Homo sapiens: one gene and its partners. The protein of the gene in region 3 purifies or fractionates together with the protein of the main gene of each other region. This does not show direct contact. Each region holds a gene or a part of one and is shown on either strand. Other genes may lie near its edges. The genes, in order: SBF1, SLC12A6 and RAB6B.

Region 1 (3,418 bases), on a different chromosome or scaffold from region 3:
AATGCTGCATTGGTAAAGCTGGCAGTTGAAACCAGTTGGACGGCCCAGCTTGCGTCTCTTCTGCCTGAGTGGGCCTCTCAGGTCACTCGTGCCCTGCTGGAGGACAGAGGGGCACCTCAGCCGCCCCCAAGCCCAGAGCACAGCAATAAGGTCGGCCTGCAGGAGCCGGGGTGGGGGTGGGGGTGGGGGGGGCAGGACCCTGAGATGCCACCAGGACCTGATGGGCCAGGAAGGGCGTGGACATGGAGGCTGTTTTTACAGTTTTTTTTTTGTTGTTGTTTTGTTTTTAAAGAATACAGAAGGAGCCAAGCTTTTTTGCACTTTGTATCCAGCTGCAAGCTCAGGGCAGAGTCAAGGGCCTGGGTTGGAAAAACCTGACTCACAGGAATGCATAATTGACCCTTGCAGCTACCCAATAGCCCTTGGAGCTGGCACTGAACCAGGCTGCAAGATTTGACTGCCTTAAAAACACAAGGCCCTCTAGGCCTGGCAGGGATGTCCCTGTGCCCAGCACAGGGTGCCTGGCAGGGGGAGACCACAGGTATGCAGGTGGGGGGACATGGTGTGGCACTAGGGGCTCGAAGACTGGTTTCTAGCACTACCGGTCACGGCCATGTCGTCCTAGAAGGGTCCAGAAGATTATTTTACGTTGAGTCCATTTTTAATGTTCTGATCACCTGACAGGGCACCCCAAACCCCCAACTCCCAATAAAAGCCGTGACGTTCGGACAAACCGCGTACTGTGAACCTTCCGGCCCCAAAGCCCCGGCCCGGCCAGGGGTGGGAGAGTCTCCTCCAGCACCTCTTTTGTGGGCCCGCCACCCCCCAGCGTTATCCCCGTGTAATGGGTGGAGGCGGAACAGGCCACATCACGGCATCAGGTCTCTACAGCTTAGCAAATACTGACATTTTTCCGTTTGGGGGATGGGGGGAACCACTTCGCCTAACGCTCAAACACATCAACCCCAGGACTTCCTTTTGTGCCAGCTCCCCCTCCCAGAAGCCTGGGCCCCACCTTGTCCTCAGTGGCTGAGTGGGAGGGGCAGGTGGAGACCAGACCCCCACCCCGCCCCAGCGAGCTTGTCTTTCCACCACGGTTGGGGGTGGAGGGAACCCGCTCAGCTCCCCAGAGGCCGAGTCTCTGCCCCAGCTACACATTGAGTGCCTTGTTCTCGCCGCCTACCCTGTGCCTGGCATTTGTCCTCTCCCCCCACAGACGTGGAACAGGGAGGGCAGGGTCCTTTCTCCCCTTACTCTGACCTGTGGGTTTTCCAGGTGCCAGGAACTTCGGTCAGGCGCCATCTGTCCGGCCTGAGGGAAGACCTGGCTGGTTTCAGTGGCTCAAGTGAGCCCACCCTCACATCTCGCCCAGGTGTCCCAACACCACCTGTGGGGTGGGGGAGGTGGCGGGACCATGCTGGGCCTGACAGGGTCCAAGGCCATCCTTGGCTTCAACGTCCCACCAGGGGAGGGTCTTGGCCCCCCACCTGCCAGCACTGGGCCCTGCCTCTGCAGCTGTCATCAGAACCTTCCCCTCACCCACACCTGCTGCTCGCCTCCCACCTGAGAGGACCACCTGAGGGACCCAGCCTCTAGCCAGGTTCTCTGCCCCTCACCAGCCCCTCTGGCCAGGTCACCAGCTGCCACTCTCAGATGTTCTCTTGGCCTTTGCAGCGTCTATAACCCTCCCCACCTTCTGCTCCTGCACCCCTGGCCAGGCCTCGTCACAGGCAAGGACACAACAGCTCAGCAGGTGAAGCCCTGGGCCTGGTGGGACTCAGGTTTGAATAGGAAAAGAGCAGTGAGGGGCCACAGTGACACCAAGAAGGGAAGGACGGGGGCCCTCTGAGACCCCAGGGAAAGGACTTTTGGGGCAGAATTCCCAAGAACTGAGAGGGTCCATCCCCCATGGGCGTTGGCCCCTTACTCTGCCAGATGCTGCTCGTTGCCTGGCAGGAGCCAGATGTGGTCAACCTGCATTCCCCTGGGAGCCCACTGTCCCCCCCCCCCCCCCGCCTCCGGCCTCCATCCCTTCAGCTCGGGTCTAGCCAGAAACTGACGTCCACCTCAAGTGTCCTCTGGACCTGCAACAGCCTTCTGGGGTCAAATGACCACCCACCCTTTCACCCCCAAGCCTCTGTGAGGTCAGCTTCTGCATCCCCTGGGTAGGGATGGGGGCTTCCTCTCCAGCCGTGCCGGCCCCTAGACCAGCCCTGAGGCGTGGAGGGAATCAAGCAAGTCCCCAGTGAAGCCTCCTGCTCGATCCGCCCCCAGAGCAAAGTCACTCCCAGGGACATGCAGGCCGAGCTGGGTGGACCCAGGCACCAGGAGAGGCTCACGAGAAAGATGCCAACCTCCCGCCAGGTGGGCCTGGATAGGGGCAGATGGGACCCTCTGGGTAGGCCGAGAGCAGGCAGCCGGGGAGTGGGGAAGGCAGGCACAGGAGCGTGGCGTTAGTTCTCTCTTTATATAGACTCTGGTTCTAGAAACTCGCCTGCAGCCGCTGGCTGGACCAGCACACGCTGACGGGGCCGGACTATTTACAGGCCCATTGCGGGCTGTACCTTGGCCACCTCCCGGCACGGTGCTCAGCTGTGACGCCAAAATAAGTTAGGGCCGGCCGGGCGGGGCGGGGCGGGGACGGGGGCTGTACACACAAGTGCTGGGGGCTCGGGGCCTCAATACTGTCGAGGGCCGGGGCTGTAAACATGGCCGGGGCGGCCCTGCCCACCCCTAGTGGTCGGTAACGACCGGAAGCAGAGCAGCCGGGCAGGGCTGGGAGGCTCAGGCGTCCGACAGGCAGCTCTGGATCCGGTCCACCCACTGCTGGGCCGAGGGCACGTCCTGGGCACAGAAGTTGTAAACGCGACGCGTTGTCTTCACCTGGGGAAGGGCGGGTTACTGACTCCGCAGCCCCCACACCGCAGAGCCCCTCCCCTCTCCCAAGCCCCGGCCAAGGCTCACGTCAAAGAAGGCCTTCTCGTCCACAGTCTTAGGGGCACCCATAGTGGGCGTGCCAGGTGCCACAGCCTCCACCTCCGCCAAGTCGATGACACCCTTGCACTCTGTGTCCACACGGTGGTCGTAGTAGCGCAGCTGGAGGAGGCCACAGAGTCAGCGGAGCCCCCTCCCCCGTGAGTCCCCCCCACCACCTGATCACTCACCTGGTGCTTGGTCTTGTCCAGCACGAACCAGCGGGCCTTCCAAGGCTTCATGAAGGCCCCCTTCTTGTACAGAGTGCCCTCGTAGGACCTGCATTTCCAGCAGAACCAGGGCCAGGCTGACCGTCATGGCCCAGCCAAGCCCAGGCCCCAGCAGTCGTCCCCCCCTTGCTGTCCCAGCCCAGGAGGTAAGACCAGGCACCCTGTCCCCAGAACTGACCTAAGCCCAGAGCACTGGCCAGGGGGCCACAAAGAAG
Region 2 (3,650 bases), on a different chromosome or scaffold from region 3:
CAATTTCTCATAGCTCCTCAAAGTGAAAACGTGGATGTGTACATAAGAGTTTTTAACTTATTAGTGTTCTCTCTTCTCTCTTTTTTTAAACTAGCAATATGAAAAATAAATAGCTTTACCCCAAAGTAAATGTAGACCTGTCTGGTAAAATGAGAGAAATTCAGGTGCTACTTTGCCAAAAATTAAAGTTATTTACCAAATGGTTATGACTATAAACAGGTGAATGTCATCAATTGAGTTTTTTGCTCAAGGCCACGACAAATATAATGAGGATTAGCAATGCCGTAATAAAACTACAAACAAAAAGCTGCCATTGGTTAAATTAGCTAGAAAACTGGAGACTGAAACCCAGCTCTGAGCTAAGATAACAGGAAATTTTAAAAAGAAAAAAAAAAAGACTAAAATTAGAAGACCTGTCATTTCCTAACAATGTGGCTTTTGTTTTCTATTTCTACAGTTTTCAACTACAAAAACTGAAATTTTAAGAAGAAAAAAACTTCAGCCGTTACATTTTTTTCAGTTAAGACATCCAAAGGTAACTTCAAAACTTCAGGTTTCGCAAAGCCCCTCAGACTGACTTATTTACAATACTGACTTGATTCTGAAATCTTGTTAAGTATAAATTCCACTTTAACAGTAGCTTAAAAATTCTTCAAAAGTAAGACGCACCTGAATATCAGAAATGTTAAAATATGGTAATGTACACACCTTAGAGCTGAGCAAATATGGTGATAGTGTTTCCTACTCATCAGGTACTGAACTACCATTAAGGCAAGGTGCTGTATGCATGTGTATATGTTGTATGTTCTGCAGTTTTGTGCTTGTACCTTCAAATGTAATTGTTGAGATTCTTAAAAGTATACCAGGGCCAGGTGCGGTGGGTCACACCTGTAATCCTAGCACTTTGGGAGGCCGAGATGGGCAGATCGCTTGAGCTCAGGAGTTCGAGACCAACCTGAGCAACATGGCAAAACCCCATCTCTACCAAAAGCCAATACAAAAGTTAGCTGGGCATGGTGGTGCATGCCTGTAGTCCCAGCTACTCAGGAGGCTGAGGTGGGAAGATGGCTTGAGCCCAGGAGTTCAAGACTGCAGTGTACTACAGTTGTGCCTCTGAATAGCCACTGCCTACCCAAGTCCAGCCTGGGTAACAGAGCTAGACCCTGTCTCAAAAAATAAAAACATATATACACTGAAGCACTAATTACAGGGTTTTAACAGAGAATAGCTTCTTGTTTTTCCACATACTTGTAAAACTTATAAAACTTCATTAAAAGAATACATTGTTTTAACATTCAAATGCTCACATAATTCCTACACTATAGCTCTCCAAACTTTCATACCTACTCCTCAGAAACACACATCACCAAAAACTTAAACTCATGTAACTTCATTATTCTGAAACAACAAGCTCACCAGCTACAGCTGTGTAGACAGTGCACGAGGGCATTAAGCCAGAAGGGCAAGGGGAAGAGGGTTGAAATCCAGCTTGCCCTTCTCCAGTGAAGTCATGATGGCTCAGGGCACAAAGGAGTGCCTTTTTAGAATTTGCACAAAGTTCTTAGTAGTCCAGAAGTATATGTTAGACACGAAGGGCAAAAGAAGCAGCAGCCATAATTCAAAAGCTTACAGCATTATAAGTTGCCTTAAACATCAGCATTAGAAACATTCCCCTTCTTCTAACAGCTTTAAAATGGGAAAGCATAACTTTCATAAGGTTCCCAGGTTTGCAGGAGTACCTTCTTTCATTTCCTTCCATTCCAGTAAAGGTAATATCAAAATTTATGAGAATCTGGAATCTAGAAACATGCCACTGAGAACAAAAGAATTTGGGCTCATGATGGAAAGACTTAGTGAGGACACAGAAGAGACCACCGAAGATCAAAGACAAGAAGTTGAGGTAATCACTGTATTGATCACTGATATTTAATCAAATATCTACAGCATTCTAGGACACACTCAAAAGAAAATCCTTTAATTGTAATTTAACCTTTTTAAAAATTGGCCAGGCATGGTGGCTCATGCCTGCAATCCTAGCACTTTGAGAGACCCAAGTGAGAGGATCACTTGAGCTCAGGAGTTCCCAGACATCTTCAAAGATAAAAGCTAAGAAATAGTAAAATGTACCTTTTACTCTACTTCAACAAATTATAAACATTTGCTAATCTTGTTTTGTCTATCTCTCCCCAACTTTTTTGGGGAGGAGTGGGGAGGAAGGAGCTGGAGTACATTTCATTTAACCTGTAAATACTTCAATATATATCTTTATAGATAACAGCTTTACATTATCACAATGTCATAAACATCTATAAGAAAATTAACAATTCCTTAATATTAATATCATGTACATGTTCAAATTTCCCCCACTCGTCTCAAAAGTATCTTTTTTCAATTGTTTTATGCACATCAGAATCCAAACCAAGTTCACACACTGCATTTGGCTGATACGGCTCTTTTTATCTGTAACAGCTTTCCCTCTCTTCCCATCACTCCTCCTCCACCCCATCCCAATTATTTGTTGAAGAATCTAGTTATCCAATAAAACTTCCCATATTCTGGATTTGGCTGATTGCTTCTTGTGGTATAAAGCAGTATATTATAAAGTTTAATCTGGCTACAGAGTATAGAGAAGAGAGGAAAAACAGTTAAGGTATATAACCAGCTGGGCGCGGTGGCTCACGCCTGTAATCCTAGCACTTTGGGAGGCTGAGGTGGGCTAACTGCTTGAATGCAGGAGTTCGAGACCAGCCTGGGCAACATGGTAAAACCTTGTCTCTACAAAAAAAAAATTAGCTGGTCATAGTGGTGTGCACCTGTGTTCCCATCTACTCAAGAGGCTGAGGTGGAGGACTGCTTGAGCTCAGAAAGTTGAGGCTGCAGTGAGCCGTGATCACACCACTGTATCCAGCCTGGTTGACAGAATGAGACCCTGTCTCAAAAAAAAAACAAAAACAAAAACAAAAAAAACAAAACTATCAAGAGGATGCTTCTTTCAGACAAGCTAAGAAGGTACCAAATCAACATATTTTAGCTATTAGAATGCTGAGGTAAAACATGGATAGTATTCAATAATTATATAATATAGAAGACTTATTTAAGAGAAAGGTAATAGTCCATCCTGGCCAACATAGTGAAACCCTATCTCCACTAAAAATACAAAAATTAGCTGGGTGTAGTGGCACGTGCCTGTAGTCCCAGCTACTGGGGAGGCTGAGGCAGAAGAATCACTTGAACCCAGGAGGCGGAGGTTGCAATGAGTGGAGACCGCACCATTGCACTCCAGCCTGGGCGACAGAGTGAGACTCTGTCTCAAAAAATAATAATAACAATAATAATAATAAGTAATAGTCACCTATGATTAGCAAAACAATATAATTCACTTATTTTGGTGTGTGACTAAAAATGATAATTTTGTTTTTTGTTAGGTTTTGTTTGTCAGGGTAGAGGTATTTATTTATTTGAGACAGAGTCTCGCTCTGTCATCCAGGCTGCAGTGCAACTTCCGCCTCCCAGGTTCTCATGCCTCAGCCACCTGAGTAGCTGAGATTATAAGCATGCACCGCAACACCTGGCTAAGTTTTCATATTTTTAGTAGAGACGGGGTTTCACCATGTTGGCCAGGCTGGTCTCGAACGCCTGGCCTCAAGTGA
Region 3 (3,650 bases):
GCCACTTCTGGGCAGCCTGACCCCCCTCAGCTGCCATGATAGGCCTTGCAGGGCAGAGCAGCTATAAGGCAATACCCACCACTCGGCAGCCTGCACACCCAAGGGGAGGGGAGGTAGCTGTCCTCAGAAGCCTCAGTTTCACACAGCCTGGTATCCCTTCTGATGTGCCTCAGGCCATGTGAACCCAGGCCCTTGCGGGCCCAGCTCCCACCTGCACTCAGGTGTGGAGGGGGCCTGTGGTCAGAAGAGAGGTGGACAGAAGGGGTGGGCAGAGCCAGGGCAGCAGGCTGGGTGGCGGGGGCATGCACCAGCGCGGGGACATGCATGCTTCCTTGTGTGATTTTTAAGGCTGTGGACAGCACCTAGGGCATTCGCCCACTTCAGGGTAACCACAGCCCTGAGGGCTTATCAGGTGTGTTCCATTACAAGAGCCTTGCAGGTCTGGCCTCTGCCTCGGCCCCCCACCCCCACCTCTGGCCCTGTGCGCCCTTGAGGCTGTGCAGTCCTGTTAAGAACACCTGCCCTGGCCTGAAGAGCCACAGTACTGGAGAAGGGTTACCAGCCTACTGCGCTTCCAGACCCCCTTGCCTACCTTCCCAGGGAGTCCTGCACCCACAGCTGCTGGGCCGGGGTTGGCCTAGGGACCAGCGTCTTCTCCCATGGTGACACACATATAGAAGTAGCTCCTTAGGGAGCTTTCTGACAGCCAGGGAGAGGGAGGGTGCAGAGAGGCTGGAGCAGGGCCAACCTTGTGAGCATCTGCTCACACCACAAGCTGGCCTCCACTCCGAGCAGGACCAACCTGGCCCTATAAACCCCTGTCGGTTGCAGGAGGGTGGGGAGCAGTGGAAACCATGTTGGTGTTCAAAGGCAACTCACCACTGCTCCCTGCCTTTCTGCATTCAGGGAGCAATCGCACACACATGCGTGTGCACACACATGCGTGTGCACACACATGCACACAGGCCTGGCCAGGGTCACACCTGGGCCCTGGACCCCCTATGAGCCACCCTCCCTTAGGAGCAGAGCCTCACTCACTTGTGATGTCGTACACCACCACAGCCACCGTGGAGTCCCGGATGTAGCTGGGGATCAGGCTGCGGAACCTCTCCTGACCAGCTGTGTCCCAGAGCTGCAGTCGCACCTGTCTCAGGGAGGGCAGGACCATGGGCAGAGGGGTCAGTGGGGCAGTGAGGTCCTCCTGGTCCGGGGGACTGGGAGAGCCGGGCTCTGCAATGCTGGCATCACCAGCTCCAGCCCCTAGTGTCGGCAGGTGCTCTCAGTGGTGCCCAGCTAAGGGTCCTAGGGGATAAGCCCAAAGGAACCCTCCCTGCCCCTCCCAGTCCTGATATTAGGTGCTCACCGTGCGGTCCTCCAAGTACATGGTTTTTGACAAGAAGTCAATCCCAATGGTTGCCTGTTAGAGAAAAGCACAGAACGGTCAAAATCAAAAGGTCTCATGCAAAGGGGCAAAAGCCTAGCGACCACAGGTGGTGGCATAACCAGCAAGAGGGGACGCTCATGTCAGGTCTAATGTGGCCATGCTCTGTCCTCCCTGCCCCTCCCTGCTACCACTCAGCGGCTCTCTCACTGAGGGATCAAGCTGAGGAAAGATGAGGGTGGCCTTTATAGGGTGAGATCTTCTCTGGAGAGGGCAAGTGCTTCAGAAGCAGTGAGAGCGCAGTGGTGAGGAGGCCTCCCCAGGAGCAAGGCCACTCAGGCCACTCAACGCACATATCCTGCCCTCCCCACCTGGACTCCCTGCCTTGTTCCCTTCATGGCCTAACCTGCAGCTTCCAAAGCCTCTTCCCTCTGCCCTAAAGCATGGGCCTGGGCTCAACACTGACCTCGGGAGGGTGGGAGGCAGGGGGCAGGAGCAGGCAGCTTGCTGCTGTGTGGGTGCAAACAGCAGCATGGCTTTTCTCAGGTGCGGGCACTGCAGACCACCCAGAGTGGCCTCTCGCTGGGAGGCCCCACTGGCTCTTTTCTCCCCAAGCCAAAACATTGGAAGCTGTCACCAGCTCCCCTGTGCCACACCTATGCCTCTTCTGCCCTGGCACCTGTGAGAGGCAGCCAGCCTTGTGGCCAGATGGCCAGGACCCACCACTCACTTGCTGTGTGGCCTTGGGCAGGCAACCAACCTCTCTGGGCCTCACAGGCACCCGGTACCTGTCAGTAGGACTGAGATGCTGTCAATGTAAAATGGAGATATCACTGCTATGTAATCAATAATAACAAAGACTTGGACACAGCCTGAATGTCCACGGCACTAAATAAGCATAGTGTGGTATATCCATGTGATTAGAACCCTTGGCAGCTGTTAACAATCACATTCTTGAAAAAATATTTAAGGATTTGGGGAAACGGTTATCCAGTTAAAAAAACAAATAAACAAAAAACAGGTTATAAAACATCATGTGGCGAGTGATCCCAATTAGATTAACTCAAATAGATCTATGAGTATTTTTCATGTTTTCTTAGACACTGAAGTGAAGGGAATCTGCTAACATGTTAATAGCATCACGGTCTGAATAGTGACAGAGCATTTTCTTTCCTTCATTACACTCCTTCATTACACTTTTCTCTACTTTCCACAATGAACATATAACAGTACTAAAATTAGAAAAAGTCCTTTGAAATAAAGTTTAATAAATAAGTTTAATTGTGTGGAATGCCATGATTTTTGACTGCAAAAAACACAACCAAAGGAAGCCCAAGAAAATAGAAAAGGTCATATCTCCAGTCCCCCCAGGCTGAATGCAAAGGTATGCACCAATGTGTGTGCACAAGTGTGCATGTTTACACAGTCACACTCCCAACTCGTTCCACAAAGGACTGAGACTGGCTTGCACCCTCCTGGAAGCTTGCCTCATAACACAAAGATATGGGGGGTCATTCTACGCTCTGGAGCATACGATGCTAGAATGTGGGCACTAGACAAAACACCTTAGATACAATCCAATCAATCCCTTACTTTGGAGATGAAAGAACAGACCAGAGGGTTAAAGGACATGCCTAGTGTGACTTCACTCATCAGTAGCAGGGCTGGGAAGATCAGAGCTGCAAACTTGGCAGCACCTGGGCTCTTTCTACCACAGCTTCGCATAGTGTAGCCACCGAGGCACAAATCTGCAATGACCAGTGCTTGTGGATGCAGACTTTTTCCTTCACAGGTGTATGTTAGATTGACAATCCTTGTCTTCTGATTCCCTTATGGAGAAATGTGCATAGCAGGTAGAAGTCTCTCAACTCCTCAATGCTCAACAGGCTCCCCAGGAGTGACATGCTCCTTTTGTAGAGTCACCTTTGAACTAAAACCAGGTGCATGAGCTTAGGACTGGTGGCAGGGACTGCTGGTTGTCCCCAGTATGTAGTTTCCCTTTCTATAGTAACAGAATTCTGGGTGTGCAGATGGACTCAGGGCTGCCCCAAATAAAGAACATATTTCCCAGCCTTCTTTGCAGCTGGGCGGCTACATTCTGGTTAATGGGATGTGAACGTGATGTAGGCATCTTTGGGGTCAGGTCCTCTGTGGGTAGGGAGTACCCACAGCTGCTCCCTTTCCCACTGTCCGGTGGGGATGAGTCATAGTGGCCCATCCAGATGAGGATGACAGAGGAGCGATGACATCAACGAAGGCTGACTCCCTG

What was found.
Region 1: the proteins of RAB6B (region 3) and SBF1 purify together in Homo sapiens (co-immunoprecipitation; 3 studies listed by BioGRID and IntAct, with this or other methods). This does not show direct contact.
Region 2: the proteins of RAB6B (region 3) and SLC12A6 purify together in Homo sapiens (affinity purification with mass spectrometry; 4 studies listed by BioGRID and IntAct, with this or other methods). This does not show direct contact.

The regions. Positions count from the first base shown.
Region 1 is NC_000022.11:50,444,358-50,447,775, forward strand, and holds the end of SBF1 (myotubularin-related protein 5), read right to left. Parts: intron 3,253-3,418; coding exon 3,165-3,252; intron 3,097-3,164; coding exon 2,965-3,096; intron 2,884-2,964; coding exon 2,785-2,883; 3' UTR 643-2,784; downstream 1-642. UniProt on the Homo sapiens protein: Acts as an adapter for the phosphatase MTMR2 to regulate MTMR2 catalytic activity and subcellular location. Promotes the exchange of GDP to GTP, converting inactive GDP-bound Rab proteins into their active GTP-bound form.
Region 2 is NC_000015.10:34,327,731-34,331,380, forward strand, and holds part of SLC12A6 (solute carrier family 12 member 6), read right to left. Parts: intron 1-3,650.
Region 3 is NC_000003.12:133,840,247-133,843,896, forward strand, and holds part of RAB6B (ras-related protein Rab-6B), read right to left. Parts: intron 1,418-3,650; coding exon 1,364-1,417; intron 1,145-1,363; coding exon 1,039-1,144; intron 1-1,038. UniProt on the Homo sapiens protein: The small GTPases Rab are key regulators of intracellular membrane trafficking, from the formation of transport vesicles to their fusion with membranes. Rabs cycle between active GTP-bound and inactive GDP-bound states.